Linked DNA regions of Homo sapiens: region 1 is linked to region 2. The links come from fine-mapping of genetic effects on gene expression. A gene starts in region 2. The other region holds a variant in brackets. All regions are shown on one strand. Distances are from middle to middle. Region 1 overlaps CFAP210 (cilia and flagella associated protein 210). Region 2 holds the start of CFAP210 (cilia and flagella associated protein 210).

Region 1 (4,400 bases), 22 kb after region 2:
AAAAGGAGGTTAAAAATCGCTATCACTTTCTTACCCAGAGATTGTATATTGGTTATTATTGTCATAATAATGCAACATAATACACAACCACACAATCTAGTGGCATGCAAAAAAAACATGTTTACTTCTCATGCATCTGGGGGTTGGCTGATCTAGGCTGGAATCAGCTGGGCAGCTTTTCTTCAAGCTGTAGGACTGGCTGGGTTTGCTTATTGTTGTGGAGAGTATTCTGATCCGCTCCATGTGTATACATTCTGAGGTTCAGGATGAAGCAGCCACATGGGGAAACTTTTCACATGGTATTGATAGAGATGCAAGAGAGCAAGCCTGAGCATGCAAAAACACAGCGTAACCCAAAGTCAATGGAGAAGGAAGTATACTTGGCCTTCCATCAGTCTAAAGCAACCACATGGCCAACCCCAACAACAATAATGGAACAGAGAAGTAGACTTCCATTAAATTGAGACAGGAAGGGGAAGGGAGTGAATCTTTTTTGAATAATAAATCTAAACTACCAAAGGAAGTTACTATTACTGTTTTGGTATATAGCCATGCAGAGTTTTTTTTTAATGAAGGAGGCATCAGCCTTATTGAAATAAAATTTGCATTCAGTAAAATTCACCTTTTAAAAAGTATAGCTGCATAACTACCACTCAAATCAAGATATGGAACATTTCCATCACTCCCAAAATTTCCCTCATGCCCCTTTGCTCTAAGTTCTATCTCCTGTTCCCAGCCTCTGGCAGTCATTGATCTGGCGACACAGACTTTTTTCCTGAACATATATACTCACATTTTATAAAATGAAATTTGAATTAGCAGCATTGTCTTATTACATGCTTTTTTCACATACCTGTATGTCACATATATAATTTATCAAAATCACATTATGTCTAAATGACACAGACATCAGTTCTCAGAATATATATATATTACCAAATTGTGTATTTTTCAATTCAGTCCTTAGTAACAAGGGAAGAAAAACCTTTGGATTTATTGTAATGTTTTTCTTTGGCAGTGTAGAGATCTAAAGGTTTGTGCAAGTTAGGGACAAAGCCATTGGCAGAGGAAGGCAAGTCTTTGACCAGTGAATCACTTGTGTTTGAGAAATCTCTTTTGTTATATTGCAGCTCAGAGGTGGCAGTCAGATTTCCAGCAAGCTACCTGGCAAGTGCTAACACCTTCACAGGCTGTCTATCCTCCTATAGCCTTTGTATCTGGGCTGTGTTTGGGCCACATCGTGTTTTTTCCTTGTAGTATGTGTCAGTAGGTTAGAGGTTCAAGCTGGTGTAGGATTTATTTTCGTTGTTTCTTTGGCATATCTTCAGTGCAGTCTCGGAAATGTTCATCAAGCTCTGACGTCAGCATAAATTCCTTTACTTACTTCTCATGGTGGGCTTTGTCCTTGTGCATGGTGACCAAGTGTTACCTATCCTCACTGTACTCTCAACTGTTCTATTTTCTTTTGAAATCTCTTGAAAATTCAGTTATGTGGGTAAGACCAGTGGTATAGAATTTCTCCTTTATATTGGTTGCATTTTGGGGAATTAGGAGAGGGAGGATGTTGTGATGGTTAATATTAGATGTCAACTTGATGGGATTGAAGGATGCCTAGATGGCTGGTAAAGTGTCGTTTCTGGGTGTGTCTGTGAGGGTGTCACCAGAGGAGACAGACATTTGAGTCAGTGGTCTGGGAGAAGAAGACCCACCCTCAAGGTGGGTGGGCACCATCCAGTCGGCTGCCGGCACAGCTAGAACAAAGCAGGTAGAAGAAGGTAGGCTACTCTTGCTTGCTGAGCCTTCTGGCTTCCTTATCTATTGGTGCCAGATGCTTCCTTCTGCTTTTCCTGCCCTTGGACATCAGATTCCAGGTTCTTCCGTCATTAGACTCTGGGACTTGCACCAGCAGCTTGCTGGGGGCTCTTGGGCCTTTGGCCACAGACTGAAGGCTGCACTGTGAGCTTCCCTGGTTTTGAGGCTTTTGGACTCCGACTGAACACTACGGGTTTCTGTCTTCCTCAGTTTGCAGACAGACTATTGTGGGACTTCGCCTTGTAATAGTGTGAGCTAATTCTCCCAAATAAACTCACACATACACACACACCCTCTTGGTTCTGTTTCTCTGGAAAACCCCTGACTAATAGAGATGTTCAACATGTGAACCTGGGTTGCCAATTTGTTTCCAAAGTCCTACAGCTTAAATTTAATAAGAAACATTCAAATCTGTAGTTGGAAACAACATAGGAAATTATAAATCTATTATTATATATTTGTTTAAGTGTATGAGTTTACAAACTTATCGCCAAGCTATATTCTGTTTAATGTTTATTCATGTATGGGTTTTATAGAATTCAGAATGCATGTTACTTTAAAATACTGTTACGAATAGGGATGAACCTATAAAAAACCTCTTTAAACCAATAGAAATGGAATAGTAGCACTGGTATTAACCTGAGTTGGGAAGAGGAGCATGTAGCAAAAAAGAGATGCAAAGGAGAGTTACTTTCCCTTTTCTTGAATAAGAGTTTATTCAGGAGCAAAATTTCAAAATAGGCTATTTATTCATTCATTAGGATATTCCTTCATTCATTCATACAAACATTTATTGAACAACCTCCTTTTGCCAGGCACTATTCTAGTCATTGAGAATACAAAGATGAATATGATGTAGTCTTCTTAAGAAGTTCA[C/T]GGCTGGGCGCGGTGGCTCACGCCTCCCAATCCCAGCATTTTGGTAGGCCGAGGTGGGTGGATCACTTGAGGTCAGGAGTTTGAGACCAGCTTGACCAACATGGTGAAACCCTGTCTCTACTAAAAAAATACAAAATTAGCCAAGCATGGTGGCACATGCCTGTAATCTTAGCTACTCAGGAGGCTGAGGCAAGAGAATTGCTTGAACCTGGGAGGCGAAGGTTGAAGTGAGCCAAGATCGTGCCATTGTACTCCAGCCTGGGCAACAAGAGCGACACTCCATCTCAAAAAGAAGTTCAGAATCTGGGAGTGGAGAGTACAGAAATGGAACAAATAATTAGAATGTAATGATAAATATTTTGGCAAATATGTGTAGAGGGTGTGTGGAAGCATGTAAAATGAGTATCTGACCCAGTCTAGAGAAGGCTTTGCAGAAGAAACTGGTTCCTGCGCCTAATTTCAAAGAATGAATAGTAATAAGCCATGCTAAAAGTGGGCTGTAGAGGTATTTTAAGCACAAGTGAAGGCCCAGAGTGGGATAGAATATGGTGGATTTGGAGAACTCCAAGTAGTCAAGATGGCTGTAGTATAAAAGACAAAGGGGGCATTGTGAAAGATAAGGTTGGAGAGATAGGCTAGGATCGGCTCATGGTGTCTTTTGTAGGTCATGTGCCTTAAGGCCTGCCAAAATTTGGAATGACTGTCTTCTTTGGGCAGAGACCGTATTTTAATTATTTTAATCACAAAGAAATGGAAATTGCAGATTACCAAGGGGCAAGTCTCTTTTTGCATGCCCTATTAATTGTATTACCAAGTGCTACCTTGCGGTGATTTAAAATATTTCCATACGTTCTTTGATACTCCTTCCTTCAGAGGATGGAGCCCAATTTATCTCCCTCTTAAGTGTGGCTATACATAGTAACTCATTTCCAAGAAATAGAATGTGTCAGAAATAATGGTGTGTGACATCTAAGCTTAGGATACTAAAGGCAATGTGGCTTCCTCCTTGCTGTCTCCCATGGATTGCTCATTGGGGAACCTAACTGCTGTGGTGTAAGGATACTCAAGCAGATCAATGGAGAGGTCCATGTGGCAAGGACCTGAGGTATCCTGACACCAAATATGTGACAGTGGATTCTCCAGGCTCATTTAAGCCCTTGGATGACTACTGCTTCAACTGACATCTTGACTACAACATTAGTTGAGAACCATCCAACTAAGTCACTCCCAGGTTTCTGACTCTCAGGAATGGTATGAGATAATAAGTGTTCATTGTTTTAAGCTATTAAGTTTTAGAGTAATTAGTTATTCAGCAATATAAAACTGAAACATATTGCACAGCTGCTGGCCCTGTGCCTGAAAGTGAAAATTTTCACATGCTTTCTAAACAATCTATCCTATGCTACTGTGGGGCTTTGACTAGTATAAGAGTCTTTGTGTGACTCATAGCCCAGTGGGTGTGACGGCGATAAGACAAATAAGATACCACAGTGACACCAAAATCCCAAAATAGAGGGATTTTGACCAGGAATCTTACACATAATTATTAAAAAGAAACTTAACACCGTAGCTATAGACACTGTATAGGTCTTCTTTCTTCTATATATAGGTAAGGCTTCCTCTAGGAACAGACACATAGACTTTGCTTAAGAAAAAACTCACTAATTACTGTCTGTTAATCCCATCAGCTTCACACACAAAAAAAGAAAAAA
Region 2 (4,400 bases):
TATGTGAAAATAAGTTTTTGTCCAGTGGATAAAATCAGTGTTAAGCTGATTGAGATTTTCAGAGTCCATTTTTTCTTTGTACTTGTTTAATAATAGAGGAGTTCCACATTCTGTTGTCAATAGACATTTAGTGCTGTACTAGAAATTAAAATGTCTCCAAAAATTAAGAATATGAACAAAGATTTAGTTTTAAGAATGTGAATCTGTTTTGAAACCAATTTGTTAAAATTCCAAAAAGTTAACTGTTCTCTTCAAAAGCACAATCTATGTCTATTTGGTATGTCTGCAATGTTTCCATAGTGTAACAATATCCTGCATACTTTACACAATAATGAAAATTAAAAACTACACAGACATCCAAGAATTGGGAAATAATTAAGTAAGATATGCATGTGATAGCAAATAACAGAATATCCAGCCAGTAAAAGCCAAGATATTCAGTTCAAATTAAATAAGCAAGTCACAAAATAGTGTGTACAGTATAATCCTGTTTTTGTTTTAGAAAATGTTTACATGTGCAGTGGGATGGTTATGGTTGGTTCAACCGTAGTTCACACTTTTTCTACATCAATTTTGTAATAAAATTTTTTTCTTCTCAGAATAATTTAAACTCTGTTTCAGATCAGAGTGCATATGCTACCTTATTAAATTCACAACAAAGAAATAAAAGAGTGGTGGGTATAGGACAAATAACTCTAGATTGACTTGGTTGTGACAATCCACAGGTTGGAGCTGGAATCTCGAGTCTGAAGTCAAATTATATCTGACCACCATGTCAAATTGGCAAGTAACTGACATCAAATCATGAGATTCAATACTTTTGTAACCAATTTTGTTAAAATTCCAGAAAATTGTTGTTGGGAGACAATTTTCCCTGCGTCTCTGGTGGTTCTGCATGTCTTACTGACTGCCCTTTCCTCTAGACTATTGTCTCAAGGATGTTTGTACACTGGACAGCCTTGAGAAACATGCTTATTTGTCCAAATGATAAAGATCTGGGTTCCCTAAGCTCAGGGCTCCTTTCCTGTAATTCGACACACACTACATCTAGGTGACTTCTTGCCCACTTTGCATTATCCTGTGGGAACTGGGGCTTTAGGGAACTCAGGCGAAATTGCTGATTTACTGGCTACTGCTGGGAGTAATTCATTCCTGAAATGAATAGTCTTGTGTCTTCCATGAAACTGCCAGGCTAAGTTAGCCTGCAAACAGGGTAAAAATCTCTGTTCCTTCCCAGTTCTTGAAACTTTTTTTTTTTTTGAGACGGAGTCTCGCTCTGTCGCCCAGGCTGGAGTGCAGTGGCACGATGGTCGGCTCACTGCAAGCTCCGCCTCCCAGGTTCACGCCATTCTCCTGCCTCAGCCTCCAGAGTACCTGGAACTACAGGCGCCCGCCACCACGCCTGGCTAATTTTTTTGTATTTTTGCTAGAGACAGGGTTTCACCGTGTTAGCCAGGATGGTCTCGATCTCCTGACCTCGTGATCCGCCCGCCTCGGCCTCCCAAAGTGCTGGGATTACAGGCGTGAGCCACCGCGCCTGGCCCCCAGTTCTTGACACTTTTTAAGGTATAGTTCCAAAAACCTACCAGCGCTGTATGTGCACAAACTAATTTCTGTCTTCAAATATTTTCTTAATTATTCCATACTTACCAGCATTATTACGTGGAACATCTGATAGAAAACCTAAAGAAAAATAGCACGACTATGTGTTAGAACATTCGTTATTAAAAATCTTTTTGTTCTTTCATTTTGAGAGACTCCAATTTGGTGCATTATGTGTACACGTCAGAGCCAACTTGTTAGTAATGAAGTTATCTGTACATCAATGTGTTAGAAAAGCATCTTTTGAAACCAAACGCGCAGCTACTCCTAACAGATTTCTGTGGTCATGTATTTACCAAGAAATTTAAAATATCTCAAAGGTCCTAACGTAAATATTCTAAGCATATCATTACGTTTTAACATTCCTATTTTTAAAAAACTTGGCCCCATCTAGTCCTGACCATGCCTCAGAAACCAAAGGATTAAAAAAACAGCGTTTATGTCAGCGAATCCGCGGGTTTTTATAGTTAAGGGAGGGCTTTGCTCCTCACACTCCACCCGCGAGGAGATCTGCGGACGCACACACCACGCCTAGGCCTCGCGCGCTCACACACCTGCCGGCTCCACCCCGAGGGTAGGCATCGGACCCAATCGGGGGTCGTCCCCCATGGGGAGCGCGCAGGTGGGGATGGGAGTAGCAGGCAGGGCGGGGGCCCACGGGCTTCTCACTGACCCAGTCCCGCCGTCGGCAGCCGCCCCGGCGCCCGTGACGCTCCTGCGGGTTCAGTCCTTTGGCCTCGCCCCACGCCTGCCCTCTCGGCAGCCCCACTCACAAGCCCAGCTCGCAAGCGCAGGCGCCTCTCTTCTCTAGCCCGACCGCCAACTGCAGCACCTCCCTTGTTCCTCGGCTACGGCTGGCGTCACTTCCGGCGGCGTTGCCAAGCAACCGCGTGGTACGAGTAACAACTCCACCGGCTGGCGTCCGCGGCGCTTGGCGCCACAGTCACTTTTCCAGATCTAGGAGCATCATGGACACCTCGTCAGAGATGCTGGTACGGTTTGGACGGCGCTGTGGACGGGCGAAGGAAAGTACAGGTGAGCTAAACTGACCTATCCAGGGACAGGGATTGTTTCTGGACCCCCGGCATGGAGTGAGAGGCGAGGATGCCGAATGAGGGCTTCAGTTGCCTTTTGAAATGGACTCCACCAGGTCGAAAGCATCCTCAATAAGCATCTTTGGGCTCTGTGTGAAGTTAGGCCGTCTTGCCCTCAGGTGAATGGGTGAAGGAGGGAAACGGGGAGTGGAAGTGGGTGGGAGAATGTTTACAGAAATAGGGGTGGAGAAAAGATAGGAAATCAGAGACCCCCACCCCCAGCCCCAGCTGACCTAAAACTGCGCAGTTGCAGCTCTGAGAGTCTGGGTTTTGTTAAATTTCCCGCACGCTTAAAGTTTGTTATTCACTGATTGAATTGGAATATCTCTTGGAAATATAAGTCACCTCTTTAGAGGCTTGGCTCTTCTGCAAACCTGCTGATTGGTCTTTACTAAAAGTCTCTGAAGGAAATATCTCCATTTCCTCCTCTCTAAAGTAAATATAAGGTCTCTCTCTAAGTCAAATGCTTTTAGAGAGTTAAAAAAAAATCGTGTGACATAAAGTACTGTAATTCAGGTGACCTGTTATAACAATTTGATTTTGGAATAGAAATAGACTTCTAAAGAACTCTATCAATTCTAGCTACAACAGTTTCTTACGTCTGTAAATTAGCAATTAATGTTGTCATGGTGACAACTAGAACTTTGGCAATTTGAAGTATCTTCATGTCATTGCCCGAGCTTCTGTAGCAATAGTGCCCCCTGCACCAGATGCAGAGTGACAGCCAGTCATTCTTCACTAGTGGATATTTATGCAGTGGAGGTTTTATGAGGTTAGCAGCGGACTTTTGCCATGTAAAAGGAAAGAAACAGTACCAACATGGCCAGTTTTGGAAAAGCACAATTAGTCCCACACATTCACTTTCCTGCATATGCATTTCTGCACTACCTGGTTTAGATTTACCTAATAGTTGTTAAATAATGTTTTGTGGCAACTAGCTCAAAAGCTTCCACCTGAGCCTCACTGCTAAATTTTAATCTCCATTTTTAGGGGAAGGCTAAGTTGGAGAGAGGTTCAGAGATGTGTGCAGCTATTAGTAAAATAAATAATTTATAAAGATTTAGTGGGATGACATCAGCCAGAATGGTGAAATAGGATCTATGCCTGAAATCCTCTCCTCCATAAAATCAACAAGAACAGTGGCAAAAATCATCAATATCGACTTTTTCAGAACTCTGGAAATTAACCAAAGGCTTGCAACAATTTGTAGAGTGTTTACTAAAGAAAAACAGCTGGATTTTTGTAACAACAGCAAGGTTTTTGGCATTTTAACTTGCCATAGTCCTATACTTTTCTCCCAGCCCCGTGTCAGCCTAGATAACCACAGTAATCACAGTGAAAAATAGTGACTTAGCAACTGGTAGAGGGGACAAAACAGAATTTGACCCACTCCAAAGCCAGACAACTGTTATTATTCGACATGTTTGATAGTTCCTTGGAAAATCTCACTCATGAGGCTTATTGTTATTTAGTCTGACTTCAAACTCACCAAGTATGTTTGTCAAATGTTCAGTGGCAATTTTAAATATCACAGCTATCAGAGGCATGTGTGGGAACTTAATCCCCAATGTAAAAATGTTGGAAGGTAGGGACTAATGAGAGGTGATAGGCCATGAGGGCAGAGTAAAGGGATTAATGCCATTATCTGGGGAATGGGTTCATTATAAAAGTGGGAAAGTTGGCCCTCTTCTTTCTCTCTCTCTC

What was found. PIP is the estimated chance that this variant, and not a neighbour inherited with it, causes the effect.
Region 1: its variant is the best candidate, but not a certain one, in a credible set for the expression of CFAP210 in whole blood (INTERVAL, PIP 0.50).

The regions. Positions count from the first base shown.
Region 1 is chr2:169,670,060-169,674,459 of GRCh38, reverse strand. All of the region lies in intron 4 of CFAP210 (cilia and flagella associated protein 210), which reads left to right. Among named protein-coding and RNA genes, the nearest start is that of CFAP210, 22 kb to the left of the region's middle. The variant C/T (reference allele first, on the strand shown) is at 2,689.
Region 2 is chr2:169,692,498-169,696,897 of GRCh38, reverse strand. It overlaps CFAP210 (cilia and flagella associated protein 210), which reads left to right and starts at 2,493. Exons shown (of 9, transcript NM_001085447.2): 1 at 2,493-2,637. The coding sequence starts at 2,571. It overlaps PHOSPHO2-KLHL23 (PHOSPHO2-KLHL23 readthrough), which reads right to left and starts at 2,429. Exons shown (of 5, transcript NR_144936.2): 1 at 2,276-2,429; 2 at 1,651-1,683. It overlaps PHOSPHO2 (phosphatase, orphan 2), which reads right to left and starts at 2,429. Exons shown (of 4, transcript NM_001008489.4): 1 at 2,276-2,429; 2 at 1,651-1,683. RefSeq lists a silencer at 2,121-2,400 and an enhancer at 2,531-2,710.